Regions from separate parts of the Homo sapiens genome. Here region 1 is linked to region 2. The links come from fine-mapping of genetic effects on gene expression. A gene starts in region 2. The other region holds a variant in brackets. All regions are shown on one strand. Distances are from middle to middle.

Region 1 (16,317 bases), 78 kb before region 2:
TGAATTTGGTATTGGGAATCTCAGACACACTCACAAAAATGTGTGTGAGTCACAGTGTTGTGTGTGTGCTGGGAAGAAATAGGGCTCCCCACACTAGGGTCAGAGCTCAGGGACATGCTAAATTCAGAAAAGCCATAGAGATGTGGGGTGGCGTAGAAAGAATGATGAGGTTTCCCCAATGATTATGAACATTCTGTTCTAATTGCATCAGCTGGGTGGGTGCGGTAGCTCACGCCTATAATCCCAACACTTTGGGAGACTGAGGCAGGAGGATTACTTGAGCCCAGGAGTCCATGACCAGCCTAGGCAAGAAAGGGAGATATTGTCTCCACAAAAAAAGTGTTTTAAAAAATTAGCTGGACAAAGCGGTGTGCACCTGTAATCTCAGCTACTTGGGAGGCTAAGGTGAAAGAATCACTTGAGCCCGGGGAAGTCAAGGCTTCAGTGAGCTCCACTTTAGCGGAGGCTTCAGTGATTGCGCCACTTCTCTCCAGCCTGGGCAACAGAGCAAGACTGTGTCTCAAAAAAAAAAAAAAAAAAGAAAGAAAGAAAGGAAAAGAAAGAAAAGATTGCACCAACCCCTGAAGACCACTGAATGTGTGTGCGAGTGAGTGTGCATGTGCTTGACATGTAGGAGTGAGTGGGTGGGCGGGTGGATGAGTGTGTGAGGCTGTTAAAGTGAATGTGCATGTATGTGAGTGGTGAGAGTGTGAGGGTGTCGTGAGTATGAGCATTGTGTGTGTGGGTTGTGAAGGTAAGTATGTGCAAGTGTGTGTACGTGTACACTCTGTGTGTGCATGTGTGTGTGTGCATGTGTAATAAGACCCCAATGAGGGAGACATGATCCTTTACAGTTTAATAACAGCCAGTGCACAACTCAATCATATGAGCCCTCATCTGAGGTTTCTGCCCACATGCTCGGCCTCCAGACAGGAATTGTTCCAGAGCTGGAAATAGTTTATCCAGGGCATGGTGTATATCAAAGACTCGCAAATTAAACTCTGTAGAAGAAGAAAGAAAACAGACTTTGGGGGAAGTATTTTTCAAAGGCAAGCAACAGGCACCTGTTCCCCAGGTCTCTCCCTGTGGCTGCTCATGAACCCCATGGGCAGAGAGGGGAGCTGCCCACAGTCAAGGGTAGAAACAGAAAGGAGTGCCAGTCTGGAACAGGAATGTCACCCTGTCTTCCCCCTACCCAGCCACTTGGGACCCACAGCAGGTGAACCTGGAGTCTATGGCCTGGCCGGACCCTGTCATGTGGGCCAGGCAGGCCAGCAAGGAGCAATAGCATCGTTACCTCCTCCTGCACCTCCCCAGGCATGGGGGAGCCCCTTGTATCTGCCAGCTTTCAAGGGGTGCCACTCATGGACCAGGAAAAATAGAAGGGAACAAGGAGGAAATTGGACAACCTTAGAGACCTGGAGAGGGAGAAAGAAGACAGAAGAAGGACCCCAAGGAAAGGGAACCACTGCTTTCACGCAGAGGGTCTGGGGAGCAGGCCAGGTTGGAGAAGGGTCCAGGCAACCAGAGGCCTGGGTGCAGGGCTGTACCAGCCCAAATATAAAGCCTCCCTCCTTCACCCAGGTGCCTCAGGAGGTGCCAGACAGCCCCAGGGCTGGGCCCCAGCTGGCCCCAATCCACACAAGTGGCAAAACTGCCAACTTCTAGCTGTTGCTTTTTAAAATATTCACTTCACAAGTCCCTTTGGGATGACTTCCACTACACACCTTTCTCAGCTTCTTGCTTTGCAGGGGGCAGGAAGAATTGCTCGTGTCATTCCTCTTGCATTTGGTCCAGCCAATCTTCACAGTGACTATATACTCCACTCCCGTCGTCAGCTGCCGAGAATCAGTTGTGCTGTTAGTGTGGACTCCAAGCATCCAGTGGCTGACCCTCTCCTGGAGAAGCTAGGACTGAGAGTAAAGCTCCCAGGGCCACAGTTCTTGTTCGCGGAGCTTACCCACCAAAAGCATGGCTCCCTTCTCCTTACTTCTGGCTGGAGGGAGGGCAATGGCAGCCAAAGCCCCTGGTCATAGGTTGGTTTTGCTGCAGCAGCCACAGAAAGCTTCTCACCTGCCTCTGTTCCATCCTCAGGACAGAAGAGGCAACATCAAGCTGGGTTGCCTGGCCACCACAGGCCACTCCCAGGCTGGCAGATGTGGCCTTCAAAATGCAACAGAGCCAGCATCTTGTCCCCACCCCCCCAGTCCCTTCTGCCATTTCCTCTGTCTCTACTATCCTTCCTGACCAACCTAGTGGAAGGCAGCTTAGCAATACAGTTAAAAACAGTTTTGGAATCGAATTGATTTGGGGCATGCATTTTCCATTTAGTGACTGTGACCTTGAGCAAGTTACTTAGCATCCTCAGCTTTTTCACTTACAAACTACAAACCACAATTGTGCCTGCTTCTGGAGTTGTTATGTGGGCTAAATGGAAGCTTGCATTTCCCTGAATGCATAAAATAAATTTTAAATATTTTCATAATTATAAGTTATTACATCTTTTAGCAAAGTGTCTGCAGTGTTACTTTGAAGCAGATTCAGTGTTAGGAGAGTGACAGAACACAAAATCTGGCTTTACCCCCTGCAGACTCTGTAAATTTTACTGAATCTCAGTTTCCTCATCTAGGAAATGAGGAGAATAATGCCAGTTTCCTCCTAGCGTGTACAGAAATGAAGGAAGGAGGCATGGTGGGTACACGAGCCATGGAGAACGCATGCCAGGGATTTCCCCATGGCTCTTTCACTTGTGATCAAGTGTGAGGCCATGAAGCCTGCAGGGGTTGGAGCCTGGAAAAGCCCTTGTGGGCAGGGAGGCCCTACGCCCAGAAGGGAGACTAACAGAGAGCTTGGGGGTTACGGTTCCCTGTCGGGTTCTGAGCTGGATTCCTGAGTAGATATGTGGATTAGTGGATCTTCACCGGTGCAGGAGAAGCTCTGGGAAGCTCCCTGTTGCCTTGCCCTGTCACTGGTCAAGCCCAGTGAGAGGGCTTGGTCATCTCTGGGGTGGTGACTGAGGCAGAGAGTGCCCACACTGCTCCTGGGAGGAAGACACCCTTAGCAAACACTGGGACAGGGCAGCAGGGAGCCTAGACCTGAGGGCAGTACCAGCCTCCCCGCACCCAAACATGTGGGGGCCATCCATGCATGGGCATTTGCAGGGCTGCCCCAGGCACGGTCACACTGACTTTCAGCATGCTCAGAATGTAAGAAAAAACTAAACCACCCGTCATCACTGTAACTGACATTCCAGTGTGCAAAGTGTTATTCGTTATTAGACTTATTTGTTCGATAATGACAGGAGTAGTCATAATAACAGCAAAGATTTTTTATAAGTGCTACCAGATGTTGGCACTGTGCTAAGTGCTTCCCTCCTATTCTGAGGCACTTTGCAGGTGAAGAAACTGAGGTCTGGAGAGTCTGGATGTCACTTGACCAGGAGCCTCAGTTGGGAGGAGCTGGGCGTGAAGCCCCCAGAGGCACCTGGCAGCCCTCCACGCCTGCTCTTGTCCCCTCTGTGAGGTGTAAGGACAGACACAATGGTCATATGGGTGTGGGGGTGCCCAGAGGCCCATGCCAAGATCACCCAGCTACCAGGAGGCACGCCTGCTCTGTCTGCTTATCAATGTGAATGACATCAAATGCTCATCATTATTCCTTAACAGCTAACTTAATGGTGATGGATTGATTTCACAAGGCAAGCCTCCTTGGGGTCTTAACCAATTGTGGAAGAACCAAGAACCAAATGGGCAACATCGCCATCTTGTGGTAGAAGTGCCTCACTGAGCCAGCCTGTGGGACAGTCTGCATTGGGATGAGGATTTGACCTATGCTGACTGGTCCTCCCCACGCTGCCCTCCCGCCTTGCCGGTTCTCTCTGTTCCAGCTGCCTTACTCTCTGGCGAGAGAGCTTTCCCATAGCCAGTTGTGTTTTCCCAAATCTAGCTAATTGAACTAGGACGTAGCATTGTTGCTGCCCCAACTTCTACAGTCAGCCCTCTGTACTTACGAGCTCCATATCTGTGGATGCAAACAACCGTGCATCAAAATATTCAGGAAAAAAAAATGTATGGTTGCCTGTATACTGAACATTTTTTCTTGTAATTATTCCCTAAACAGTACAGTATAATAATTATCTACATAGCATTTACACTGTACCACTTATTATAATTAATCTAGAAATGATTTACCATATGTGGGAAGATGTGCATAGGTTATGTGGAAACACTATTCCATTTTACATAAAAGACTTCAGAATCCATGGATGTGGGCATCCTGAGGGGTCCTGGAACCAATTCCTCATGGACACCAAGGGGACTGTATAGTTTATTATCTGACCTTGAGGAAATGTTGTACCAATAAAAGGGGTTCCCTAACAACTTTTCTTTCTTCTATTATCCTTCAATTGATATATTTCAGAGAAATTTTATATGTAAAACAGAAGGTGAGGTGATCTGGCTGAACCCTATCTCTCACATCCTCTCCACTTCCAGAATAAACCCTCTGTATAATTTGAAGTTTGTATAACACAGAACACCCAGTTTTGAATTTTACAACCCTACACATTGAAAAAATATTGGGGGCTACAGGCCTACAGAGAATATTTGTATTTTGCCAAATGAGAACTTTAAAGGGAGCAAAATTATCCTTGCTGTCACTCCGGCAGGGTCAAATATCAGAATGAAAGGCATTTCTTCCCAAGGAAAAAGAGCTGGCCGGGCGTGGTATCTCACGCCTGTAACTCCGGCACTTTGGGAGGCCGAGGTGGGCAGATCACCTGAGGTCAGGAGTTCGAGACCAGCTTGGCTAACATGGTGAAAACCGGTTTCTACTAAAAATACAAAAAATTTAGCCAGGTGTGGTGGTACGTACCTGTAATCTCAGCTACTTGGGAGGCTGAGGCAGGAGAATCACTTGAACCTGGGAGGAGGAGGTTGCAGTGAGCCAAGATCATGCCATTGCACTCCAGCGTGGGCAACAAGAGCGAAACTCCATCTCAAAAAAAAAAAAAAAAAGAGTTTAATCCTCAGTGAACACTTTTGCCTCTAAGTGTATTGGAGTTAGAGTTCATGCCAGTCCTTAGGAAAGCATTTTGGAAGCATGGCTAAGGACATTCTGGGATCTGAACAACTCTACAATGTACCTGCTACAAGTGAAGATGCTTCCCCCTTGGGACCTCACGGAGGACCACCACTTGGTTCTCTTGGGAGCTACCCCAGAATCCTCACATGTCTGAACTGGCAAGAACAGGGCCTGCTGATGTCTTGGGAGAGCAAGGTACAAACCTGCATCTGACTTCGAATTAGCCTCTGGACTCGATATAAGTAGGTGTCGTTGCTGGCATTGTTGTAGGATTGAATGAAGAAGTTGAGTGTTGAATTCATGTTCTTCTTGCTCATGAGCTTCTGCTGGAAGCCCTCCCACCTTTGGAAGTGACCCAGCTTGGCTGACAGGACCAGGGCAATCAGCAGCAGCAGGGGGTTTCTCCAGCATCCGATCCCCATGTCTACAGCCTCAGAAACTTTCTTCCCAACTGCACCTTCCAGGGTGTGGTGGTGCCAGGCTGCAGTTCACTCATTCTCCCATCATAACCCTCACCAACATAGGCTTTCCTGGGGGATGGCCTGCCTGCATTTAAACAGAGATTCAGACCTGAACCTTGTCACTCAGTTTCCAGCCAGTTCATTTTCTACCCATTTACACCACCCATTCAGTTCTTTGGTGATCCAGGCAAGCAAAATTTTTAAACACCTGCTAAGGCGTGCAAGCCCCTCTCCCTGCCTTCACATGTCTCAGGGAAGAAAAGCCCCAGAACAGCCCCTACAGTGCTCTGCAATAAGAGCTGGGGTTGTAGATAGAGAAGCATCACTTACAGGAAGGGAGGCGGCCTTACGGAGAAGGTAATATCTGAACTGAGATATAAGGAAGCAGTCATATGGAGCAAGGAGTGGTACATTATTCTTACCTTCCTTGGGTTCCAACTGTCTTACAAAGCCACCACCTGTTCCCTGTGCTTCCTTTACAGACACGTTCTCCTTGCTCACCTGCCGCCCGCCCACCACAGATTTCTGCTTGCAGGATCCCCCTATACCTGCAGGCCCTGCACTGGCTTTTGCTATCTTGTTGTGACCCTAGTGGAGCTTTGTGAGGTAATTGCAGCCTCCCTATGAGGGAGGAATAAACTGTGAGCCCCATTTAGAAATTATCCGCAGACCCCTGAAGATTAGGTGTCACTTACCCCCAAAAGCCCATGAATGCCCTATTTTAAAAACATTTGCTGGCTGGGCGCGGTGGCTCACGCCTGTAATCCCAGCACTTTGGGAGGCTGAGGTGGGTGAATCACCAGAGATCAGGAGTTCGAGACCAGCCTGGCCAACATGGTGAAACCCCATCTCTACTAAAAATACAAAATTAGCTGGGTGTGGTGGTGTGTACCTGTAGTCCCAGTTACTTGGGAGGCTGAGGCAGGAGAATCACTTGAACCCAGGAGGTGGAGGCTGAAGTGAGCCGGGAGGGTGCCGCTGCACTCCAGCCTAGGTGACAGAGCGAGACTGTGTCTCAGAAAAAAAACAAAAAACAAACAAAAAAAAACACCTTAAATGGAATCCTACCAGAAAAAAACATTAGTGGAATAGTTGATGAAATGTGAATAAAATCTGCAGATTAGTTAATAGTATTGTGTGAATGTTGATATTCTAGTTTTCACCGTTGTACTGTGATTGTATAATATGTTAACATTTGGGGAAGTGGAATGAAGGGTATACGAGAATGCTTTATGCTATTTTTGCAGCCTTTGTGTAAGTCTGAAATTATTCCAAAATAAAGGTTAAAATGTCCAAAACTAAATAAAGCGTTGTTCTGTGAGGAGTAGCGTGCTGAGGGAGGGGAAGCAGGAGACTTAGGATCCAACTGTCCTGGCTCAAGTCCTTCGCTGGGGACTCTGGGAGAGTTACCTCATCTCCCTAAGCTGGGTTTCTTCACCTGTAATATGAGAATGGGGAGAAAGACTCCACTTGAATTGTGGTAGAGACTAACTGGATGTAGGCAAAGAACCTGCTCCCAAGTCAGGTGTCAGGTGCATAAGAATGTCTTCTTCGTGATTCTTCTGTGACTCTGAACCCACACTTCACCCATGGCCTGTCATGTCCCGGAAGCCAGGCCACCTTCCATCATGACAATGTTGCTAGCACCAGTCACAACATCCTCCCTTGGCCCCAGAGCCTGTCTTGAGAGGACTTGTCCAGCCGGTGGAGGTGATACATTTGAAATTCCCTGAGCCTGAGCTGCCGAGGGCCACTTGCTGTAGAATAGATAATGAAGGATTCCGAGTAATCCGGGAAGCCACACAGACCTGTGCCGTCTCAGCATGCCCCAGACACCTGGGATACCCCCATCAGGCTGAGGCCCATAGAGAGGAAAAATAACATTGGGTGGGCCATATTAGAAACCCCATGGATGTGGGGCTCAAAGCATAAACAATAAATCTGCTTAAGAAATATGGGAGTTGGTTGTGTCCATAAAGAGGAAAATGAGTCACTGGCAATTTTAATTGAAGAAAAGGAAAACATAGACCCTGACTATGCCACAGAAAGAGATGTGAGGCGCCTAACAGGTCACACTGGCGTTCCTTAGCTTGTGTCAGCAAAATGCTGATTTCTGACTCTGTGGACATGGAATCAGGAAAAAAATATGATTCTGGTAAGGTACATGTATAAAGGGAGACAGGGAGCTTGGTTACAGCATGGAATAGGGGCAGAGCATAGTGGCTGACACCTGGGAGGCTGAGGCTAGGAGGATTGCTTCAGCCCAGGAGTTCCAGACCAGCCTGGGCAACATGGTGAAACCCCGTTTCCACAGAAAATACAAAAATTAGCCAGACATGGTGGCCCACATCTGTAGTCCCAGCTACTCTGGAGGCTGAGGTGGGAGGATCACCTGAGCCCAAGAGAGGTCGAGGCTGCAGTGAGCTGAGATCACACCAAGCACTCCAGCCTGGGCGACAGAACAAAGGGAAATAGAGGGCTTAGTTGTTGTCTGGTTACTGCCATGAAACAATGGAAAAATAGGGGCCTGAGTATTTCCGTGGAACAAGAGTAAATTAGGAGTGCTGGCTATAACAAATAGGAGCCCTGTTCTTGCCAATAAAAGAAGGGAAAAATATGAGCTCTGGTTAGACCATGGAATAACAGGAAATATGAGGTCTGCTCATGTCTGTGGAATAAGGAGCATAGGAGAGAAGGATTGCAGAAGGGCATGAGAAAACTTCAGGTGATAGATATGTCTGTTGTATGAATTGTAGTGATAATTCCACAGGTGCATACGTATGACAAATTTCATCAAATTGTACACTTTAAATATGTGCAATTTGGCCAGGCGCCGTGGCTCACACCTGTAATCCCAACACTTTGGGGAGGCCAAGGTGGGCAGATCACATGAGGCCAGGAGTTCAAGACCTGCCTGGCCAACATGGTGAAACCCCATCTCTACTAAAAAACACAAAAATTAGCCGGGGAGCACATGCCTGTAGTCTCAGCAACTCTGGAGGCTGAGATGAAAGGATCGCTTGAGCCCTGGAGGTCTAGAATGCAGTGAGCTGTGATTGTGCCACTGCACTCCAGCCTGCCCAGCAGAGTAAGACCCCGTCTGAAAAAAAAAAAAAAAA[AG/G]AAAGAAAGAAAAAGTATGTTTCCCAGGAGTCCAGCAAACTGGGCCTCCTGTCTCATAAGCTGAACCTGGTAACAGGCCACTGCTGGACCAGGCATGATGGCAAGTGTGGGATTCCTGTTGGATCAACCCGTGGCTGGGTGCTGTGTGGGCGAGATGGTGTGTGTCCCACAGAGGCCCCCTATGAGCTGCACAACTTCCTGGTTCTGTCTGTTGACGACCAAGCTCAGGATTTCTTTATCAGTCCAGCTCCTAGGAGAAGCAGGAAATAAACAAGAACATGATGATGTGTTTTATCCCAGCAGGCTCTGCTTATGTGGGCTGAGGAACCTGCAGACAGGGAGCTTCCTGGCTGTAGTTCTTCATCACTCCTTCACCAGTAGATATGGCATTGGTGCTGGGAAAGGGTCACACTGTGACACTCTCTTCATCAGCCGACATCTGCTATCTGAAATTTTCTGATCATTCTGGGGAAACAAATAATCCTCTGTAAACAACACGGCTGATCTCGGTTGGTTTCTTCTCTCCACTCTATTTTTTTTTTTTTTTTTTTTTTTTGCATGTAGCACTATTTGACAAGCTCTTCTTTGTCCCCTAAATAATCCTGTTCTAGGCTGGCTGCTGACCTGGAGATAACCCAGGCAGAAAGCAAATCTATTTGCGACCCACCTGCTGCTGGGCACCCTCCAAACATGGCCCAGGAAGGAATGGTCAGCAGTCTGTGCCTGCTTGAGGAATCTCCCAACTGTGGCTGCAGGGCAGGGGTAGGGGAGCACAGTCCATGCTGCCAGCAGCAGCTCCCACTGCAGCCCTGAGCCCTCGCCCCCAGGGCAGCAGCAGAAGAACATGGCTGATCTTGGCTGGAAATGCCTTCTGATTCTGGGGAGCAGGCCAGCAGCAGGCGCACAGAAAGTCAGCAAACAAGGCGGTGCTACAGATGGCTCCAAGCTGGCATCGCTCCAAAGGTCCCAGGGTACATTTTCTCTTTCCAGACACAGAAACATGAGAAATCACAAGGCTTAAAAAGTGAGAGCGTGTCACAAGAGGCCAAGGATGCCCAGAGTGGAGGGGCTTGTGGGGAGGTCATCGTCCTCATCCAGCCTTTGGTCTCCTTTCTGCAGACGTTTTCCACAACACAATATCTGTTTACCAGCTCTTAAATAGTCATCAGGTTCCATTTTGAAAGCAAAGAAAAAGCAGGTGGATTCTGCAGGCTGCGACACTCCTGCTTCCACCTTCTCCTGCGATCTGTCTGGTTTTCTGTAAGCAGATGCTTTTCCCACTGAAGCAATGAGCAGCAAAAGCGGAAGAGGGCCAAGAGTCTGTTGAAATCTGTAATTAAGTCTTCAAGTTCAAATCTTTTGCCCATTTTTCTGTTTGGTTGTCTTCAATTGATTTGTAGGATTTATTTATCCTTCTTGCAAATGTCATCCTCTGGGTTGTGGTTGTCTTTTCATTTTATTTATGGCATGTTGATGAAAAAATATTCTTAATCTTAATGGAAAGAATGTATTGATTTTTCTTTCTTGTGGTTTGCATTTTTTATGTCTTATTTAGGAAATCAAGGTCATAAAGCTACTTTTAAATATTTTTTCTGAAATTCTTAAAGTTTAGCATTTCCCATTTACGTCCATAATCCATCTAGATTTTTGTGCGTGGTATGTTTACTAATGTTTTCTTCAGAATTTTTGTATCTATCTTCATGAGTTAAACTGGGCTGTGATTGTTTTTTCTCATATTGTGCTTTCCTGGTTTGGGTTTCAAGGTTATACTGGCCTCATCCAACGGGTTGGGGAGCATGTCAGTCTGGGTCTCCACAGTCAGCACAGGCACACTTGCAACAGGAGAGTTCAGGGCAGTTTCTATACGGGGCGCTGTGCAATGGTGCAGGGACACAGAAACCCTGGGACACAGGGCAAGTGTCTGCAGCAGCCATGCCACCTAGCCTAAGCCTGAAAGATGAGGCAAACATCTAGAAAGAATTGGAGTGCCAGCTGGCCACTTTGTGGAGAGAGCAGGGGACAAACACCATGATGTCAGTCTCCTCTGTCCTCTACCTCATTCCTAGGCATCTTGTTGTCAAATACAAGCAGAAGTTATAGGGCACAAGAGCCCCACGGATGGAGTCCATAGCAGCCTGTGTTGTGAAGCAGAGAGCAGCATGGAGAAAGTGCCTTAGTCAGGGTTCTCCAGAGAAACACAGAGATATGAAGAGATTTGTTATAAAGGATTGGCTTGTACAATTATGGAGGCCTCGAAGTCCACCATCTGCTGTTTGCAAGCTGGAAACCAAGGAAAGCCAATGGTATAGTTGGAAGGCCTGAGAGCTGGAGAGCCACGGGTGTGGATTCCAACCTGAGTCTGAAGGCTTAATAACCAGGAGCGCTGAGGGCAGGAGAAGATTGATGTCACAGTCCAAACAGCCAGGCAGAGCTAATTCAACCATCTGCCACTCGGGCACTCAGTGGATTGGATTGAATGGTGTCACTCACATTGGAGGGGCCATTTGCTTTACTCAGTCCACTGATTCAAATGCTGACCTTTTCCAGAAACATCCTCACAGACCCATCCAGAAATAACATTTAACAGATAGTGGGCATTCCGTGGCCCAGTCAAGTTGACACGTAAAATTAACCATAACAGAAGGTTAGCCAGTGGGGCTAGGGAGCAAATAGAAATTAGCCAGCACCAGATGATTTCCCTCTGTCTTAGTTCTCTTGAAAAGCTGCTAGTTTTTATCTTTTTGCCCATTTCTTTTAGGGATTGGGAAAGGGATATTCTATGATCTGACTTCATTTCATTTCTTTATCCAGATACTGTCCCAATGTGCAGCTGATTTTCATCATTTGCAGAAGGTATCTTCTATAAAATCTCTGCAAACATGGAAGTAGTAAATGCTAAACCATTGTGCCCAGGAAAAACACAAGGTTTGGTTTCCTTGAGTCTCTGGTTACAACACTTTCTGTCAATTGATCAATATTTAACCTTATTTTATGTGTGTCTCTAGTTAGAGGTGTCTTTTAAATATATATTGTTGACTCATTGTCATCAAGCTCACCACCAACAGTCCTGTAAATGCCTGAATGAAGCTTATTTAAGACACATTTTCTCCATAAGGCACCTCACAGTCTTCTTGTGCCTAGGAACTAGATAGCACTGCAGCACTATGCCTGGGGCCATTTTAATCAGCAAAATCACCAACCAAAAAAAGCACAAAACTCAAACCACATGTGATAGCTCATACCTGTAATGCCAACACTTTGGGAGGCCAAGGCTGAAGACACTTGAGCTCAGGAGTTCGAGATCAGCCTGGGCAACACAGCAAGACCCCACCTCTAAAAAAAAAACCAATACAAAATTGTGAAACGTGGCACTAAACAGGCTGTGAAGAAGGACACATTAACAATATAAGAGCTAGAACAAGGCTGGGAGTGGTGGCTCAAGGCCAAGGCAGGTGGATTACCTGAGGTCAGGAGTTCGAGACCAGCCTGATCAACATGGGGAAACCCCATCTCTAGTAAAAATACAAAACTTAGCTGGGTATGGTGGCACGTGCCTGTAGTCTCAAATACCTGGGAGGCTGAGGCAGGAGAATTGCTTGAACCCAGGAGGTGTAGGTTGCAGTGAGCTGAGATCGAGCCACTGCACTCCAGCCTGGTAGACAGAGTGAGACACCATCTCGAAAACAAACAAACAAACAAAAACAACAACAGTTGGAACAAGAAGGCAGATTGCTGCTGTATTTGACCTCAGCTTGGAACATATGTGTCAGGCCACCCACATTTTTGCCCACTCTGAGCGTCTGTGAATGACGGCAAAAGTGCCACAAGTGTTGATTTTAGGAATGCAACTTAATTTTAGCAAGTAGGTGAGTTTGCAAATATGAAATCCATGAATAATAAGGGTTGACTGTGTTTTTAAAGACAGTTACTACCATGTTAAGAGTAGATTTGCGAAGACCCAGTTCTTCCCACCTGATAATGAAGAAATGCTAGTACCGCACCCTAAATAAGCCTGGGACGGTGTAATCTAGTGATGGGGAAATTATTTCACTTTCCAAGACAGTCTTAGATGTTTCCATAAGAGCCAAATGTGATGCAAACCAAATATGCCACCGTGGAAAAAGGTTTTGTGAAATCTGATTTATTCAACTATTGGCCATTAACAACCAATTACAAACACTTATAGCAACAGAGAAAATATATGTTTCATAAACAAACAAAAAATACAAACTACAAGCATACTCCTAATAATACTTACACATGTGTAAGTTTGATGGATAAAAATGAGATAGCACTATATATGTATAAAAAATTAAAAATGTTTCATTGAGCAGGTAGAATTATGAGCATCTTTTTTTCCCTAAAATTTCTCCTAATGTAATATTAAATAATCATGTGAAAGGAATTCAAAGAGTATGTGAGAAATAAACCATTTTTCCCTTTAAGCAGTTGTGTCTGTGGCTCACAACCATTTAACTTACATTAAGCATAGATAAGAAAGGTCCTAGAATATATAATATAAATAAAAATTGTCAAAATGATCTTATGCCCATTTGCCATAAATAAAGGCATCAAGTTAATTTCAAAACTTGTTTTTAGACTTTTACATCAACTAATAAAAAGAAGAATATTTGGTCGGGCACAGTGGCTCATGCCTGTAATCCCAGCACTTTGGGAGTCTGAGATGGAAAGACTGCTTGAGCTCAGGAGTTTGAGACCAGCCTGGGCAAGAGAGCAAGACCTCATCTCTACTAAAAATAAAAATTAAAAAACAACTGGGTTTGGTGGTACATGCCTGTAGTCCCAGCTACTCAGGAGGCTGAGGTAGGAGGACCACTTACGCCTGGGAGATTTAGGCTGCAGTGAGCTTTGATTGTGCATTTTATTTTTTTTTATTTTTTTTTTTTGATGCTGTATTCTTTATTGCATCTTATCGACTGGTGCATGATTTCGGTTTTTCTCATTTTTTTTTTTTTTTTTTATTATACTCTAAGTTTTAGGGTACATGTGCACATTGTGCAGGTTAGTTACATATGTATACATGTGCCATGCTGGTGCGCTGCACCCACTAATGTGTCATCTAGCATTAGGTATATCTCCCAATGCTATCCCTCCCCCCTCCCCCGACCCCACCACAGTCCCCAGAGTGTGATATTCCCCTTCCTGTGTCCATGTGATCTCATTGTTCAATTCCCACCTATGAGTGAGAATATGCGGTGTTTGGTTTTTTGTTCTTGCGATAGTTTACTGAGAATGATGGTTTCCAATTTCATCCATGTCCCTACAAAGGATATGAACTCATCATTTTTTATGGCTGCATAGTATTCCATGGTGTATATGTGCCACATTTTCTTAATCCAGTCTATCATTGTTGGACATTTGGGTTGGTTCCAAGTCTTTGCTATTGTGAATAGTGCCGCAATAAACATACGTGTGCATGTGTCTTTATAGCAGCATGATTTATAGTCCTTTGGGTATATACCCAATAATGGGATGGCTGGGTCAAATGGTATTTCTAGTTCTAGATCCCTGAGGAATCGCCACACTGACTTCCACAATGGTTGAACTAGTTTACAGTCCCACCAACAGTGTAAAAGTGTTCCTATTTCTCCACATCCTCTCCAGCACCTGTTGTTTCCTGACTTTTTAATGATTGCCATTCTAACTGGTGTGAGATGATATCTCATAGTGGTTTTGATTTGCATTTCTCTGATGGCCAGTGATGATGAGCATTTCTTCATGTGTTTTTTGGCTGCATAAATGTCTTCTTTTGAGAAGTGTCTGTTCATGTCCTTCGCCCACTTTTTGATGGGGTTGTTTGTTTTTTTCTTGTAAATTTGTTTGAGTTCATTGTAGATTCTGGATATTAGCCCTTTGTCAGATGAGTAGGTTGCAAAAATTTTCTCCCATGTTGTAGGTTGCCTGTTCACTCTGATGGTAGTTTCTTTTGCTGTGCAGAAGCTCTTTAGTTTAATTAGATCCCATTTGTCAATTTTGGCTTTTGTTGCCATTGCTTTTGGTGTTTTGGACATGAAGTCCTTGCCCACGCCTATGTCCTGAATGGTAATGCCTAGGTTTTCTTCTAGGGTTTTTATGGTTTTAGGTCTAACGTTTAAATCTTTAATCCATCTTGAATTGATTTTTGTATAAGGTGTAAGGAAGGGATCCAGTTTCAGCTTTCTACATATGGCTAGCCAGTTTTCCCAGCACCATTTATTAAATAGGGAATCCTTTCCCCATTGCTTGTTTTTCTCAGGTTTGTCAAAGATCAGATAGTTGTAGATATGCGGCATTATTTCTGAGGGCTCTGTTCTGTTCCATTGATCTATATCTCTGTTTTGGTACCAGTACCATGCTGTTTTGGTTACTGTAGCCTTGTAGTATAGTTTGAAGTCAGGTAGTGTGATGCCTCCAGCTTTGTTCTTTTGGCTTAGGATTGACTTGGCGATGCGGGCTCTTTTTTGGTTCCATATGAACTTTAAAGTAGTTTTTTCCAATTCTGTGAAGAAAGTCATTGGTAGCTTGATGGGGATGGCATTGAATCTGTAAATTACCTTGGGCAGTATGGCCATTTTCACGATATTGATTCTTCCTACCCATGAGCATGGAATGTTCTTCCATTTGTTTGTGTCCTCTTTTATTTCCTTGAGCAGTGGTTTGTAGTTCTCCTTGAAGAGGTCCTTCACATCCCTTGTAAGTTGGATTCCTAGGTATTTTATTCTCTTTGAAGCAATTGTGAATGGGAGTTCACTCATGATTTGGCTCTCTGTTTGTCTGTTGTTGGTGTATAAGAATGCTTGTGATTTTTGTACATTGATTTTGTATCCTGAGACTTTGCTGAAGTTGCTTATCAGCTTAAGGAGATTTTGGGCTGAGACGATGGGGTTTTCTAGATAAACAATCATGTCGTCTGCAAACAGGGACAATTTGACTTCCTCTTTTCCTAATTGAATACCCTTTATTTCCTTCTCCTGCCTGATTGCCCTGGCCAGAACTTCCAACACTATGTTGAATAGGAGCGGTGAGAGAGGGCATCCCTGTCTTGTGCCAGTTTTCAAAAGGAATGCTTCCAGTTTTTGCCCATTCAGTATGATATTGGCTGTGGGTTTGTCATAGATAGCTCTTATTATTTTGAAATACGTCCCATCAATACCTAATTTATTGAGAGTTTTTAGCATGAAGGGTTGTTGAATTTTGTCAAAGGCTTTTTCTGCATCTATTGAGATAATCATGTGGTTTTTGTCTTTGGCTCTGTTTATATGCTGGATTACATTTATTGATTTGCGTATATTGAACCAGCCTTGCATCCCAGGGATGAAGCCCACTTGATCATGGTGGATAAGCTTTTTGATGTGCTGCTGGATTCAGTTTGCCAGTATTTTATTGAGGATTTTTGCATCAATGTTCATCAAGGATATTGGTCTAAAATTCTCTTTTTTGGTTGTGTCTCTGCCCGGCTTTGGTATCAGAATGATGCTGGCCTCATAAAATGAGTTAGGGAGGATTCCCTCTTTTTCTATTGATTGGAATAGTTTCAGAAGGAATGGTACCAGTTCCTCCTTGTACCTCTGGTAGAATTCGGCTGTGAATCCATCTGGTCCTGGACTCTTTTTGGTTGGTAAACTATTGATTATTGCCACAATTTCAGATCCTG
Region 2 (16,317 bases):
AAATAAAAATAGTGACTTTAATAAAATCTTACCATGTTAATATTATCAAAGGACCAATTCTAACTTAATCCTTCATTATAACCTGACCTTGTCCCCAATCCCAAGCTTTCTTTAAACAATTCTACTCATTCTGTAGTCATAATGCATGTCATTAAATGCTAATTTCATGACATTAAATGAGATTTTCATTCAATGACATGAATTATGACTTCAGAATGAGCAGAACTGGTGTCTAATCACACAGATGTGGTGTCTAATGAGTCAGAGACATGTCATCTCTGTCTCACATGCATTTGAACTTGAGGCTTGTAAGCCAGTGTTTACAGGTAAGAATAAAAAATGCAAGCAAAGAAGAAACTGAGAAGAATTGGAACACTTCAGTGCTGTATGCTTCTGTATCTTCCACAAGATTCTAAACCTCAGGGTTACTGTGCTGAAGCAGAATAAAGCCAACTTAAGTTTTATCTGTCACATAATTAATAAATCATAAAGACTTTGGAAAACAGAAATGAGATAATCCTACTACCTTAATGTATCATATAACAACTTATTTTCTTCTGGTCTTTTATGTGCAGGTTTTCAATACAATTGAGGTTAACTGTATGCTTAATTGTGCATTTTAAAGTTGAACATCCAAGCACAGACTTTTTCATGTCATTCAGAGCCCTTACTCTGAATAGCCGGGTCATAAGCCAGGGTATAGATTTACCAGAGTTGACTAGAGCACTTCCTTGTAGTTGGACAATCAGGCTGTTTCCCATTCTTAGTTAAAAATAGCAAGAAGGGGGATAATAGCATACAGCTCTTCCCATATGTTGGACAATTTCTTTAGGACAGAGTCTTAGAAAAAAAAATTTCGGTTACAAAAGAACTATTTTATATCTCTTGATACCTAAGACCTGCATGCCAGATCCTATGGCCTGGTGGTATAAAAGCCACAGCCATGTGCACACTAGCAACAAGGCAATGGGTGTATGTTTATTCATTTTGCTCACTTACTAGATGGAAAAGCTATATCATGGCTTTAACCTGCACCACCTTGGTAGATGCCAACTTCAAAATTAATCAATTGCATTTCCTTCTAGATCTAGGAAAGACATTCAATCACAACAGCATGAGTATTTACCTGTGTGACACCTTTTATGATAAATCAGCATGTGGTTCTGAGTGAATCTTGCACCACATTCATCACAGACAAAAGGTTTTTCCCCTGTATGAATTCTGAAAGTACAACATTCAGATGATAACTTAGGATGTATTTCAAAGCTCACTTTGCAATACAATTTCCACTCTATCCTGCAAAAATCGTTTACTCCAAGAGACCTAATGAGAATGACTGTAGTGACAGGTCAAGAGCCCATAATCTCCATCCCAAAATAAACTGAGTTTCTGCACAAGGTCAATGGATCCACACATTTTCCATAAATCACTGACTGGAATGTTCATCTACACCTGATCACAAGCCCTACTGCTGATGCTATAAGGCATGTGCAGGTAGAGACCAGGCCTTTGCAGATTTTTTTAAACACTAAAGACCACAATCTGATATTTGTAAAGCTGTCTCATACAGAATAATCAGCCACAAACACCTTAGGAACTACTGCTGATTAAGTGTCACATGATCAAAAATGTTACTCTCATTTCCTAATATGACATCACCAGTAGAGAAAGGAGAACTGTTCTCAAATTGCCGAAGGTGGCATTTTTAAAATGCATAAGCATTTTAATGTCACAACTAGTATGAAGTAGCAATCAAACATAATTTACTGAGCACTTCCTAAACCAAGTATTTTTAACTTATTATATAGAGTAAAAAATGAACACCATGCTGCTAACCCAAGACTGACCTAGGTTTGAGGGCAGATCTAGAAGAGAAGAGAAAACAACTGCTTGTTGGGATTTCAAGAATAAATATACTAAGAACTATAAGAAAACTTATTTAAAAACATCACCACACACCTGCAGCTCAGAAACATATTAAGAAACAGAAAGCACTGTCTGTCCTGATTCTGGAGTGCAGACTGCCTAGATGGCACTCCTTCCAAGCCTGAGAACCAAAAGACCAGAGACGAGTCCTAAAGCCTGAAATGGCATCTCACTGAGGTCTCTACTGAGACTGTGGGACCCGGATGGTCACAGAACCCCAAGATCTAAACGAAGAGTCAGGAAAGGAGAAATAAAGGTAACGAGGCCCAACTCTTCCTCCAGCACGGTGGGGCGAGCCCGCGGCCGCTGTCGCGGTCCCACCAGAGGGACGTCCCGGCCAGCAGGGGCGCCCCAGGGGTCTCAGAACAAGGGAGCAGAGCCATCACTCGCAGCCCCTGTACCTTGACAGAGAACTAAACGCTGTCTCGAAATAAGCCCCCAGGTTTGGAGCGGAGAAATTAAGCAGTGAGACATCAAATCCCAGGACGACCTCAGTGCTTGACACACCCTTCCAGTGCGCAGGGACCCCTCCGGACGGCTCCCCGCGTACCTCATGTGCGTCTTGAGCGCGGACGGCTGCGAGAACCTGGCGCCGCACTCGGTGCAGCCGTAGGGCCGGTCTCCCGTGTGTGTGCGCTCGTGCAGCCGCAGCGCTGTCTTGGAACTCAGGCCCTTGCCGCACTGGCCGCAGCGGTGCCGCTCGCCGCCGCCCTCATGCACCTGCAGCACGTGCCGCTTCACGTCCTTCTTGCGCTTGAACTTCTTCCCGCACAGCTCGCATGGGAAATGGCGCTCGCTGCTGTGCACGTGGCGCTGGTGGCTCTTCAGGTTGCAGCGGTTGGCGAAGGTCTGGCCGCAGGTGTCGCAGCGGTACACCACCTCGGTGGCCACGCCGTGGCGGTGCTTGCTGTGCTTCAGGAAGCTCTTCTCATACAGAAACGCCTTCTCGCAAATGCTGCACTTAAAGTTGCTCTTCTTCTTCTCCCCTTCTTCGTCCTCCTCCTCCTCCTCCTCTTCCTCCTCCGGCCCTGCTTTCTTTGACAATTCCTCCAACTCAGCACCTGCCTGGCAACCCTCATTTTTGGAAACCTGCTCCATCTCCGTGCCCACCCTGTCCGGGCTTTGGTCCTGGGGACACCTGTAGTCCCCCACATCACCCTCAGCAGTTTTCTGCTGCTCTCGGAGTCTTCTCGTATATTTCTTTTTAGGGATCTCCACAAAGACCTTCCTCCCAGCCAGCCTTCCACTAGCTCTCCTGATTTTAGGGTAGGGAGGTTTAACTACCTCTTTCTTCTTGTCTAGTTTGTCCTTGGACTTCTTCGGTGGCAAATCTGAAGACATGCCATTGCTGGCTCTCTCTCCTGGGTAGTCCAAGGAATCCGTGAGACCACTGGGGTGAGGGCCATCGGTGGCCACACTTGCCCTGGGGGCAGGAGCAGCACTAACTTGGGAGCCACTGCTCACCTCCACCTCCTGAGACTCTGAGAAATTTTGCAACTCCAAAAGTACTGACTCTAACATCTGTTTCTTTAATTGAAAACAAGTTTCTGATAAATCCAAACATTTCAGCTTTTCAGCCACTTCCAGCATTCGCTGCACCCGATCTTCTTCCACCTGTACCTTTGCAGTGTAGACAAACTCAAGAAATGAAGCAAAGTCAGCAACCTGCACTTCATTTAAGTAGACATTAGTCCTAGTACCATCCACACTCTTCTCATTAAGGAACACTTCCTTAAAAAACTTGCTGGTGGCAGCCAGCACTGCCTTGTGGGCCATGAAGTCTTTGCGGACACCCTGATACTCCACGCTGACTGTCACGTCACACAGGTGACCCAGGAGGCGAAGCTCATGCATCTCATGCAGTAGGTTAAATGGGGAGGATTTGGATTCCAGCAGAACTGCACCGCTTTCCATCTTTCTTCCTTCCAAAAACAGCTTTGAAAAAGAAACAAGAATTATGCATGAGCAACCACTGATGCAAAAGGACTAAAATTTATGAGGATTCCTTCAGTACTTGAGAGGATATAGACTCATTAACAACCTAGCTTTACTCAGGTAAAGATTCGAATGACATTTTACTTCTTAGCAGTTTTCTAAAGTGAGGTTCCTCATGCATTTTCCTAAGGTAATAAATTGGCATGAAAAATAGTGTATTCTAAGGTTTCCTCCAGTGATAAACAAATGATGGAAGTTGTGATTAGTGAAATACATTAACACAGTAATTTGCTCACCAAGGTCACTGTCTAATTTGCTTACATAGTCCCCAAAACTGTAAAAGAATTCATGGCAACAATAATGTCTAGTTCTCTGATCAGGAAACCAGATAATTAAAACACATAGCCACCACCATCTGGGAGCAAATCCAAAACCTCAGGGAATCATTTCTGCCTTTGAAAAGAACCAACTAAATAACTACTTTCCATGAGGAAAACTTCTTGGAAAAGTAGTTCACAATTCATCGCCCATTCCCAACATCCTAAACTCCTCAGAATTTGAATTATTGTTACTCTACTGAAATAATGTTAAGTTCCACAGCTTTTACAAGCTGTGCTACTTTGAGCAAGCAACTTCTCTGAACCCATTTCCTCCTCTGAAGAAGGCTGACCGGCTGTTACCAGGGTTCCATGAGCCTGAAACTTGTTGGCTAGTTTATTGGTTTCCCACACATAGGCCAAGGTGCTACAGTGATCCCCATTTCATAGATGAGGACCTATCAAGGTAACAGTCAATGGCTGGTTGGGACATGAGCCAGGGCCTGGTGCCCGGATTCAACTCAGACTACTCAACACACTCTTCCCCTCAGCCTTGCCAAAGGCAAAGGGCTATCTTTAGCCCCTAAATCTTTCCACTGCAGCGGGCATGCAAATTTCACCAACCCCACCTAAGGCCTCCAGATACCGTCACCCCATCGTCATTTCTGCTGCTTTGCCACAAACTCCCTGAATGTGTTTTCTCCCTGCCCTTCAGCTCCTGAATCTACCTTCCTCTTTGATTCCTGTTTCCATCCATCCAAAGCACATGCCTTCCTTCTAGCCTCCTTCGGCCAGACCACAGATGTCACCTCGGATTCAACGTGTCTAGAAAAAAAGTTGTCATCATCTTCCCTGATAAACTAGTCCCACCCCTCTCCCCTTCTCCAGTCTCATCAATGAGACCGCTCCCCACAACTAGCAGTCCCTCAAACATGGAAAAGACTGCCCTCTGGGAGTTCCGCTGTAAACAGGTACCTATGAGGCTTGATCAATGTCGCCTGAAGGAGACGCCCCAGTAAAACTGTGAGAACACTGACAAAGCCTAAGGAAGGGATCTATAAGAGTGGGGCTCTTATAGAGCCACTGGGGTTTCAGTGGTCCCAGCCCCAGCCTGGGGAAACAAGACTGCAGAGGGCTCTCTCAGCCTGATGCCCTGACTTCCCCAGACCTCTGCCAACAGGGCCCTCGAGGAGACCTGATTTCTCAATCAACAAAGTGGGTTCTGAGCGCGATTTCCTATGTTGCTTGGCTACTGGAGTGCAGGCACTGGAGGTGGCGACAGGGCAGTCTGCGGCCGGTGACAGCTGCGTATCCGCCGAATCTCATTGGCATTCCGGCCGCCTCCCAGTGCGCCCGGCATCTGCACCAACGTCGGCGGCCCCTGAATCCCCGAGGCTCACGGGGCCAGAGCCCTTCCAGGAGACGCTGCTACCCGCAGCCCAGTCCACGGCCACAAGGGCCGGGGTTTCCAGTGGGGCTTAAATCCGCCGCTGTCCTCGCCGCCCTCACGGCACCTCCCACCCTTCCCGCGCCACTTGGCCGCCCCAGCGCCCGGACGCCGCTCGGCCACTCCAAAGACGACCCAGAGAACAAACTACTGCAGCCACAGAGAAGCCCCTCCTCGGCCCGACGCGCCGCCTCCCGACGCGGGCATCCGGGGCCGCGTGGATCAGGCCCTCGGGCCGCCCCCTGCCCCCGCTCCCGCATCCCCGAGACGCGCAGGTCCACAGAGCAGCCGGGGCGCGCGGACAAAGAGGCGGCGGCGGGCGGCGAGGGGCCGGAGCCAGGCCTACGGGCCGCGCACTCACCTCCCAGCCGGCGCCCCCGCTGCAGCCGCTGTCCGCTGGACCAGGCCGGTAGGAACGGCCGGCCCGGCTGGGCGTGGCGTAGCACCCTGCGCGGGCACCGCCGATTGGTCGCTGCAGGCCCCTCCCCTCCCGCGGCCGGCCCCGCCCCTGGCGGGGCTGAGGAAGGGGCTGAGCCACACGTCGGGCGGCGGAGCGGTTCGGGCAGTTACCTGATCTGGCCGCGCGACTGACTGGCGACGCCGGATTGCGTCACCCGCCGCATTGCGTCACCCGCCGCGAGCCAAGGCCTGCGCCTGCGCAGGAGACAGCGACGTCTGCGCTGCGGCACGCCACAGGGGGGCGGGGCCAGTCGCGAAAAGTCACGTGAGCGTCAGATTCGCGTGGTCACTTTCGCGTCCATTCCGGGCTTCTGGCCGCAAGGCGCCAGCGCTTCCGGGCCCCAGCAGCCTGCGGTCAGGGCCTGCAGCTGGCTTCCCACTAAGAGCTGCTCACGTCCCCGAGGCCGAGCGCACCCTTAGGGCACGGTGGCCACGCGAGGGACCTCGCGGAAAGCCGGGCTTGGAGCTGGTACTCACCTTGGCTACTAGGGGCGCAGATGCCTCCACGGGCGCTGGAGAACTGGCGCCAGGCGGGGCTCGGCGCGGCGCTCTCCTCTGGGGCGCTTCTTCCGCGGTGCCCCCGCCCTGCTGGGGGGCTCGGCGCGCCAGGAGCCGGGACCGCACCCTGCCGTCTTTACTGCAGGGCTTTATTTCCAGGAGTTCCCATTCGGGCGAAAGCTTTGTTCACTACAGAACTTCCCCAGAGACCCATCCACTCTTCGGGGAAAGCACAATTGATTCCCTAAGATTCGCTGACTCCTCGAAATCTTGCTGTTTCCACCAATTCTTGCTCAATACTAACTAAAGCCCGCTTTGAAACACCTTCCTTGAGTCAGACTTCCAGTTCTCAATAAACTGACCTTGCCTTTTGCTCCCAGCCATTGGTAAAGCTTTGCCAGGTCATGCTGTCCCTTACTGTGGCCAGCAGTTAACTCAGCCTTGTCTTACCGACACGTTGAGTTTGTAATGTTTGGGGACTGTCAGGACAAATACAAATTTAAAATAAGGTTTACTACTTCCTGTTGAAAATATGAGATTTCCCTCCCTTTTTCTTCGAACATTTACTTTTAGAAAATTGGTAATTAGTGTAAGTACTTTTTCCTCTCTTTGAAATATATAAATCCTTTTGAAGACTAGTTAGGCCTTTTTGTGCGCTTTATAACCTAGATATGTCTTTTTCTAGGACCTAGGAGCCATCTCTTTAAGTATCAAGGGAGTTAATGCCCCTGTCTCCCAGTTTTAATGGGGGAGTAGGAGCCTAACTTCAGTGGGCCCTTTGCTCCAACTTACAAAATTATCTCATATCATAAAGATACAAGTTTCTTTTTCCTCTAGATAAAGCCAATTGGCTAACACAGAGGATCATCCCAAATATCAGGTTAGATGAACTGTGTGTGATGAAAAATGCTGCCAAGTTCCCTTGAGAGCTAGTTATTGTTTATCTTGAAAATGTGTGTAATAGATTGCTTGGCTGCACAAAAGAGTGAGATTTCGTTCTGTCTTTGCAGTCTCTTAATGGATTGCCTGTGATGGGTATCACATTCTAGTTTAATGCTTATTCAATTACAAAGTGTTTTCTTTCTCCACTACCTTTCTGAAGAGGGTTGGGAGATTGTACTTTTAATTATATTTCCTGAACAGGAGCCAGCTTCCCACACATAGTAGGTGCTCAATAAATATTTGAAGAATGAATGAGTGACAGAAATCTTTCTTAGGCCGACTCTCTATATTTGCATTCCATGATTTGAAGAAATTGGAATGAACGCAGTTTTCACCCATGGCTCCAGCAGGCCCAGAATCGTGTTTTATGATTTTGTTTTGCATTACAAAAAGGTGGTCAGGCACGGTGGCTCACGCCTGTAATCCCAGCACTTTGGGAGGCCGAGGCGGGCCGATCACTTGAGGTCAGGAGTTGAAGACCAGCCTGGCCAACATGGTGAAACCCCGTCTCTGCTAAAATACAAAAATTAGGCCAGGTGCGGTGGCTCACACCTGTAATTCTAGCACTTTGGGAGGCTGAAGTGGGCGGATCACCTGAGGTCAGGAGTTCAAGACCAGCCTGGACAACATGGTGAAACCCTTTCCCTGCTAATAATACAAAAATTAGCTGGGCGAGGTGGTACATGCCTTTAATCCCAGCTATTCAGGAGACTGAGGCAGGAGAATCGCTTGAACATGGGAGGCAGAGGTTGCAGTGAGCGGAGATTGCACCACTGCATTCCAGCCTGGGCAACAGAGGAAAACTCTGTCTCAAAAAAACAAAACCAAATTAGCCGGGAGTGGTGACAGGCACTTGTAATCCCAGATGCTCAGGAGGCTGAGGCAGGAGAATCACTTGAACCCAGGAGATGGAGGTTGCAGTGAGCTTCGATCATGCCATTGCACTCCAGCCTGGGCAATAGAATGAGACTCCGTCTCCGATTATGTTAGCTAGCATAACATAATGCTAGCTTATCCATTCAATACTGAAAGGATTGCTTTAGTTGAGTGTCTTAATAGCTTTAAAAATAGAGGTCATAAGACTCACAGACTCTTTGTGGCAATACTAAATGATAAAGAATGAAGGGCCATGCCTGGCAAGGGTTGTCATGCACCTCTACACTTCAAGAAGAAACTATGCCTTAACTGCCACAAGGTTTTTATTCTCTGGCAGCCAAACAAGCACTGGCCTCTAGATAAGCAATATTCAAACAATGTGCTTTTCATCCACCTCCACATGCTGACTGACACGCCCCCTGCCCCAGCCCCACCACTTCCACAAATAATTACTGCTTTGATTGGACCAGAGACTGACTGCAGTAACTTTTTCCTGATGGGAAACAACCGAACAGGGGCTGATTCTGGCGGTTTACAGAGGCTGCACACAAGTGCATCGGTGTCCTGAAAAGATCTTTCAACTTATAGGGTCTAAATGTAATACATGAATACCTGTAAATGCTAAGAGTCCACCCCAAAGTAAACATAGGTCACCTGTAACATGCACGTTTGTCCAGTAAGCATGGGTCAGGACCCGTTTCATGAATATTCATAGCTCTTCCTGTGGCCTGTTCATATGTGTACTTGGCTAAGTCCTTCAGCTTAAATTCCTGTCTTAGGCCCCCTTCCCTCCAGCTGCCTGCCTTTTGAGCTTCTGCCAGAAGCTATGCTTCCCAGCCTGTCAGAAGGGCCACCTTGCAGGTTATCACCGTTTAAAGAAATAAAGCTCTCCTTTCTATGTTTGTGATCTTTTTTTTAAATAATACAAATAGACAATTCACTTGACAGTGTGAATGGCATACTTCACTGACAATGGAATACTATAAAAACAATAATAAACCACTGATAAACATCAACCTGACAAAGTTAAATATAGTGTTTCATGCTGTAGAACTCTGCACGAGAAAAGTACACGGGAGTGAACAATTGTTACGTAAGGGCGTTCACTGCAGTGCACTTACATTAGTGAAACTTTGGAAACAATCTCACCTATAAGGAGATGGCCGAAGAATTTGATATATCCAAGCACTGGATTATTATGCCGGTCATTAAAACAATGTTTAAAAATATGTGTAATAGCTTGGGGAAATGCTCACCATGTTATAATGAGTAAAGACGGTACACTATTTTACATAGGGTCTGATGTGATTTGAAAACAAATCTATAGAAATAGACTGGAAAGAAATGTATCAAATTCTAAACTGCACAAGGAAGAACACTGACGCACGCGCAACGCCGGCGCCCTGCCCACTAGGCGCCCTCGCTGCCCCTCACCTGCACAGCCGGCGCACGCCCACAGGCTCGTGAGGGAGCGGCCGGTGGGTCAGGCTGGGCGGCACTCCTCGCCCATTGGCTGTCCCGGAGTCCGGCCCCGCCTCTCCCCGCCTTCTGGAGCCGCTGGTATAGCTCCTTCCAGGGCTCCTTGGAGACGGAGGGCGGGGCTAGGGCGCCGGAGTCACGTGGTCGCGCCACCGCGCGATTACTAGCTGTCAAAAGAGTCCTCAGAAGTGTCCTGAGCGGTCGCAGGGTAATGACGTCGGCCGTATCGGGGATGCTGGAACCTGCGGTTGAGTGAGAAACCGGCGCCACCGCCTGCGTCTTGGTCTCGGGCTGGTGGCCAGCGGGGTCTGGGCGTGGTTTTACCCAGCTCCTTTGCGAAGCTGCTGTCCTTTCCTCAACGTTACCACCCGGCTGGGCAGCCTACCCTCGGTCAGTACGTCCTGGCAAGAGCGCTTCGGGCGTGGCGTTCGTGTCGCGGGGGCCTCGGCTCAGAAGCGAGGGAAGAGCAGCCCTCAGAGGAGCGGCGACCGCGCTTACCGGGAGCCCGGGTTGGGAGAGGGCTCCCCAGGAGGGGTGTGAGCTCCGAACGAGAAAGAACGCCACCGCCTCGTGGGGTCTCTTCCTAATGTGCAGATTCCAAATCTCTACAATGCTGCAAAAGAGGTTACAGTCCACATCAAATTAAGCATGCCCTAAAGGGCAGCTGGGGTTCAGTTCAAGAGTTGAGTTTTAACACACACCTTTACCTGCCTTAAAATTGGGCAAGGTATCACAACGTTAAACCATTTCTCACAAGGCTCGTTGGTGATGTTTAAGATTTTTTGTTTGTTTGTTTGTTTTTTGTTACGGAGTCTCGCTCTGTCGCCCAGACTGGAATGCAGTGGCGCGATCTTGGCTGACTACAACCTCCGCCTCCTGGGTTCAAGCGATTGTCCTGCCTCAGCTTCCTGAGTAGCTGGGATTACAGGCGCCTGCCACCACGCCCAGCTAATTTTTCTATTTTTAGTAGAAACGGGGTTTCGCCTTGTTGGCCAGGCTGGTCTTAAGTTTTGCATCCTGGCTCCCTCCTCTTACCTAGTCCCAGCCTCTTGTCTACAGGACAAAGCAACTTTCTGCAGTTTTCTGTTTGCTCTTTAGAGAGACGGGGCCCTAATTTGGCAAAGTGGTAGGGGAGACAGGGCTGGTGTTTAAGGTCGACCAAAGCAACATCTAAATCTCTGCTCTTCCCCCAAATTGTCCAAATTAGCAGCAACAGGTGTGCACCTTCCAAGCTTGCAACAGACCACATTCAGAAGCTTGATTTCTTGTTGTTCTGGGAATATCTGGATCAGAGGTAACATGGTTCACTAGGACTCCTCAGCTTCACCCAGTGTCCATTTCACCTCCCCCGGCCTTCCAATGTCTCTTCTTGCAGATTTCTCCAAGCCACTCTCCCCGTCATCTCCTCCACCCCCAGGACCCAACTCCTGCCCCTCCCACCCTAGCCCCTGTTCTCCCTGCCCACCTCCTACCCCACTGGAGTGGCCTTTCATCAAACCTAAACCAAAGAAACCAACAGACCTTGCTGTCACCACTACTCCGGGACCTGGAAGTTAAAGCGAGGGAGAGACGGTGAAACACAGAAAGCAGAACGCCTTCTGTTCTTCCACAACACAGGGTTTGTGGACGTGGCCACTATAAGAACTCGCACTGCGTGCTGATTATACTCCTCAGCACAATTCATTTCTTAAACTTTTTAGAATAATTTAAAATTTACAAAAAGTTGCAAAAATAAAAACCAGTAAACTTTTCACCTTCATCTGCCTTATAATTAAGGCAGCGGGCAGCGCGCTGGACAGAACGGGAGGGGCTTGCGCTTTCCGCCGGTGGGAAACCCCACCCGCAGGGACGAGCCGGGACCATCTGGCCCTACCTGCCGAACGGCCGCTTGGTGGAGATGTGTCCCAGAACCGAAGGAGGAGGGTGCCACGCACATTTGTCTTGCCTTCCCCGGTGGCGGGGGCATGGCAAGGGCGGAGCTTCCCGCTGTGCCCTTGGAGGCCGCCTGCAACCAGGCTAGTGTAGGTGGGGACGCACGCCCTGTACCCTACCCATCCTGCCCATTGCGGGTCTGGCCCGGACCTGAAGGGCAGTAGTTGGGGCCGTCCCCGCGTCTTCTGGGCCCTGTAGTGAATACAGTCTGCCCCATTCAAATCCTTTTCCTCACTTAGGATTACTGCTGTGTGTCAGTGTCACACACCCCAAATTGATAATGGCTTAAGATGGGATTTCTCATTTAAAAAGAAGTCTTTGGTTGAGTGAGCTGGGGCTATTTTGGTGTTTCCACATGGGACCTAGGCTCCTTTTAGCTCAGCACTATCCTACGTCTAGGGTATGGCTGAGCTGTTCTCTTGGCCAAGACTGAGCCAGAGCCCGTGGTCAGGTCAGCATAACCTTTCCAGGCAGCAGGATAGAGTGGGAAAGAAAGAAGGGTCTGTTGAAGGAAAATTCCCCCAAGTTCAGTCCTACTTCATTGGCCAGAACTTAATCACATGTCAGACCTAGCTACAAATTGAATGAGAAAGTCAAGTATTTAAGGTGGGTCCCTTATCTCTCAAAACACTGGGCTTCAGATAATAGAGAAGGGAAGGGGTGTCAAGAGGAAACGGCTACCTGTGTCACTGTGCTTATCAGGATTCTTACCCTTCTCAAAATTTCCCATTGCAGTATCTTGACTACCCTATCCCAAACCTAGCACACTTTTACCAAAGACAACTTAACTGGGGAAGCTGCAGCATGGCAGGCACATCATCTATTGGTCCAACTTCTATAGGGTTTTCTATTCTTTACATTGAAGAAATGCAATTGGGTTTGGCCTTTAGGATCAGTAACAGCAGCTTCTGGTTCTGATGTCCTCCATCCTAGTTTCAGTGCTTCTTCCTCTCAGAATCAGTGCTGATTCACTTTCTCTTTATCAATGAGTTTAATATAGTGGCTTCATTTATAAGCAATTAGCTAACTCTAGTATTTCATCTGTTCTCATCATTTAATTCTCAGCTAAGGTGCTAAGGTAGGGCCCAGCCATCTGTTAGGTGATTCTGCTATATCCTAAGGTGATGTATCCTAAAAGACACCTAGGGTGCTTTTAGAAACTGCCCATGCCCAGCCGTATCCTCAAAGATTCAGGCAAACAATTAGCCGGGTGTGGTGGCATGTGCCTGCAATCCCAGCTACTCAGGAGGCTTAGGCACGAGAATTGTTAGAACCCGGGAGATGGAGGTTGCAGTGAGCCAAGATTATGCCACTGCACTCCAGCCTGGAACAAAACCAACCCCCCTACCCACCACCACACACACACACACACACACACACACACACACACACACACACACACACTCAAGCATGGTTGGGTCTGGAGTATGGCCTTGGCATAGGTAATTTTCAGTGTCCCAAGGGATTCTAGTGTGCATGGGGCTGTGAATCACAGCTCCAGGTGGGCCAACTATGTGCACACTGGTGCCTGGGGTAGGTACTAAGCCCTGATCCTCACCCCTGTGCGGGTGCTTCCTATTATGCTTTCTGCCTTTAGCCCTCCTCCTCCCTCACAACCTGGTCAAACACATCAGACAGGGAAAGAAGCAACATGTGTATTATTAAATTATTTGTCAGAATTTCCAGAATCAGAGTCTCTACTGGGCAAGTAGAAAAATAGAAAAGTTTACTACTTTGAAAAGGAAACTATGACAAACAAGTATATATTCAGGAAAGGGACTCCTAGAACTTGAGCAACAAAAAAGAGTTCAACCTCGGCACAGTGGAGTCTGCAGTGTCTCCGCAACAACAGAAATGAACTTGTGTTCCTCACATCCTTGAGAGTCGAGGTTTGCATTTCTCTACAGAGCTAGGGCTGAATGAAGCAAAGAGACCTCTGCCACCCCCACTAGCTGGCCCAGTCCTGGAAGCGGAAGCAGTCACTTGCGATCTTCCACACTGTGTTGCTGGGTGAGGCCTGGGCGGTCAGGATGAAGTTCTGGTTGAAGTCCCGTTGTTTGTTCCCCTCAAACTTCACTGATCCACAGATGACAACAAGGACCGTGGTCTGGCTTGGTGTGGCTTCATCATGAACAGGCTGGCAGTCTACCACGCTGATTTGGAACTCGCTGGAAGGCAACATTTCAAAAAACTCACTCAAGGATTCTTGTCCTGAAACAGCATTGCCATTCCAGACCAGGGTGGCTGTGCCCATGTACAGGCGGGACAGCAAACGCCGCCGCTTATCCATGGTGGTGTAGTAGACATTGACAAACTCCTCAGCAGCTCTGCAGGCCTGATCCACATAGGTCTTGAAATCCACAGATGCCATCTCTGGTTCTATGGAAGGAGGGCTCCACCAGGGTATTTCCTCTGCCTTGGGGAACCAGGGGCTGCAGGGAAGTAAGGTTGAAGAGAAGCCACGTGAATGCCAAAGTTCATTCTGCCCTGACAATGGAACATTCCTCCTTTTCTACTACTGGCAAAATAGTTACAGACTGCAGAACAATGACTGTAGGCTCAAATAGTACCCAATGCCTAAAAATGCCTAATTTTACTAAGACTCAGTTTGCTCACTGTTAAGATGGGATTACCACTGTGGCAAACTGAGATAGTATACCTTAAGTGTTTAGTTTAAAAACATTTAGTTATAGTCAGCACTCCATATCTGAGGGTTTTGCATCCACAGATTCAGCCAACCTCAGGGCGAAACCTGCAAATACGTTGGGCTGACTGTGCTATGCCATTTTGTTTTTGTGACAGTCTCACTTTATCACCCAGGCTGGAGTGCAGTGGCGCGACCTCGGCTCACTGCAACACCTGCCTCCCAGCTTCAAGCGATTTTCTTGCCTCAGCCTCCCAAGTAGCTGGGAATACAGATGCCCGCCACCACGCCTGGCTAACTTTTGTATTTTTAATAGAGACAGGGTTTCGCCATGTTGGCCAGTCTGGTCTCAAACTCCTGACCTCAGGTGATCTGCCTGCCTCGGCCCCCCAAAGTGCTGGGATTACAGGCATGAGCCACCATGCCCGGCCTTAACGCCATTTTATATCAAGGACTTGGAGCATCAGCAGATTTGGTCTGTTGTGGGGCTAGGGGGGCTGCTGGAATCAATTCCCAGAGGATAAGGAGGCCTGATTGGACCACGAATTTTTAAAATCACATTTTATAAAATAGAGTACATTTGAGTATGGAAGGCCACTCTTTCCTGAATGCTTGCAACAGACATGACAGCCCCTTGGTAAAGACAGTGGACCATGTTGAAGGGAAGAGTGGTCACTGGCCCAATAAAGGCCAACCAAACCAATGAAATGCTCGTCAGCTGCTGAGTCTAGGAAAGTCTATCATGAGCTCACTCAGGAGGAACTGGGAAGGCAGAGAAGGCAGGTTTCTTAAGAGGGTAGAAACACAAATGACATGAGGACAGAATCAAAATGGCAGCCATAATCCCCATGATAAGCTAGAAGCAGCAAACCTCTTGGGTGAGTGGGGATTAGAAGGGAGGACACCCAGCTTACACAGGTACTAACATCCACCAGATAAGTCCTGTGGAGTCACAGTGCCTCCACAGAAAGGCATGTTAGATTTCAAAGCTCTTGGGTGTGTGGACACAGAATATGAACTATAGCTGAAATGTCACATTGTCCCCCAAATAAAAAAGTCCAAAAGCATTTAAAAAATTGACATTTACTTTTTTCAGGGTACAGGTACAACTGTTATGTTCTTTTCTCCATAATTAAAATATTTCACTTAAAAAAAAGAGGACATTACTAAAATAGAGGACATTACTAAAATAGTTTATACTTACAAACTTAGTGAACAGTTTTTTTTCATTTCAAAAAAAAGACTTTTTTTTTTATAATGATTAGCTTATGAAATAAATAAAACATTCCACATAGGGCTGGAAAGAGCCAGGTACTTATAACGGCTGCAAAGATGGTGCATTGCCTCTGGTAAAGGGCTGGCTGGGAGGGAAGCTGTCCTAAAAATGAGCAGTTAAGAGCCAATTTCAGACGTGGGTCTTTCCACGCCCTCCACAGACCTCATAGTTAAGCCTCAACTGTACTCTGGACTGAGTACAGTGGTCCCTCGGTATCTGTGAGGAACTGGATTCAGGACCCCCGAGGATACCAACACCTGCAGATGCTCAAGTCCCTGATAAAATGGTGTACTGTTTGATATAACCTATGCGCAGCATCCTCCTATATACCTTCATCATCTGTAGGTAACTTATAATACCTAATACAATGTAGATGGGATGTAAATAGTTGTTATACTGTATAGTTTAGGAAATAATGACAAGAAAAAAAAAGCCTCTACATGTTCAGTACAAACGCATTTTTCTTTTTCTGAAGAATATTTTTGATTTGAGGTTGGTTGAATCCACCCCACGCGGAACCCACGACTAAGAAGCGCTGTGTTTGCTAAGGGCTTCACACAAATTACCTCATTTAAATGTTACCACA

Evidence for each region.
Region 1: its variant is fine-mapped to the expression of GZF1 in whole blood (INTERVAL, PIP 0.97).

Annotation. Positions count from the first base shown.
Region 1 is chr20:23,429,455-23,445,771 of GRCh38, reverse strand. It overlaps CSTL1 (cystatin like 1), which reads right to left and starts at 6,087. Exons shown (of 4, transcript NM_138283.1): 1 at 5,966-6,087; 2 at 5,286-5,628; 3 at 1,728-1,838; 4 at 842-1,001. The coding sequence starts at 5,504. The coding sequence ends at 894. RefSeq lists enhancers at 2,767-3,346, 3,749-3,848. The variant AG/G (reference allele first, on the strand shown) is at 8,663.
Region 2 is chr20:23,351,907-23,368,223 of GRCh38, reverse strand. GZF1 (GDNF inducible zinc finger protein 1) reads right to left here and starts at 6,042. Exons shown (of 6, transcript NM_022482.5): 1 at 5,987-6,042; 2 at 2,477-3,861; 3 at 1,127-1,221. The coding sequence starts at 3,840. LINC01431 (long intergenic non-protein coding RNA 1431) reads left to right here and starts at 10,097. Exons shown (of 3, transcript NR_109884.1): 1 at 10,097-10,269; 2 at 11,087-11,173; 3 at 11,255-11,630. It overlaps NXT1 (nuclear transport factor 2 like export factor 1), which reads right to left. Exons shown (of 2, transcript NM_013248.3): 2 at 13,453-14,243. The coding sequence starts at 14,182. The coding sequence ends at 13,760. RefSeq lists enhancers at 4,443-4,502, 6,317-6,576, 10,002-10,391, 10,582-10,671 and silencers at 5,757-6,246, 6,667-6,756, 9,762-9,951.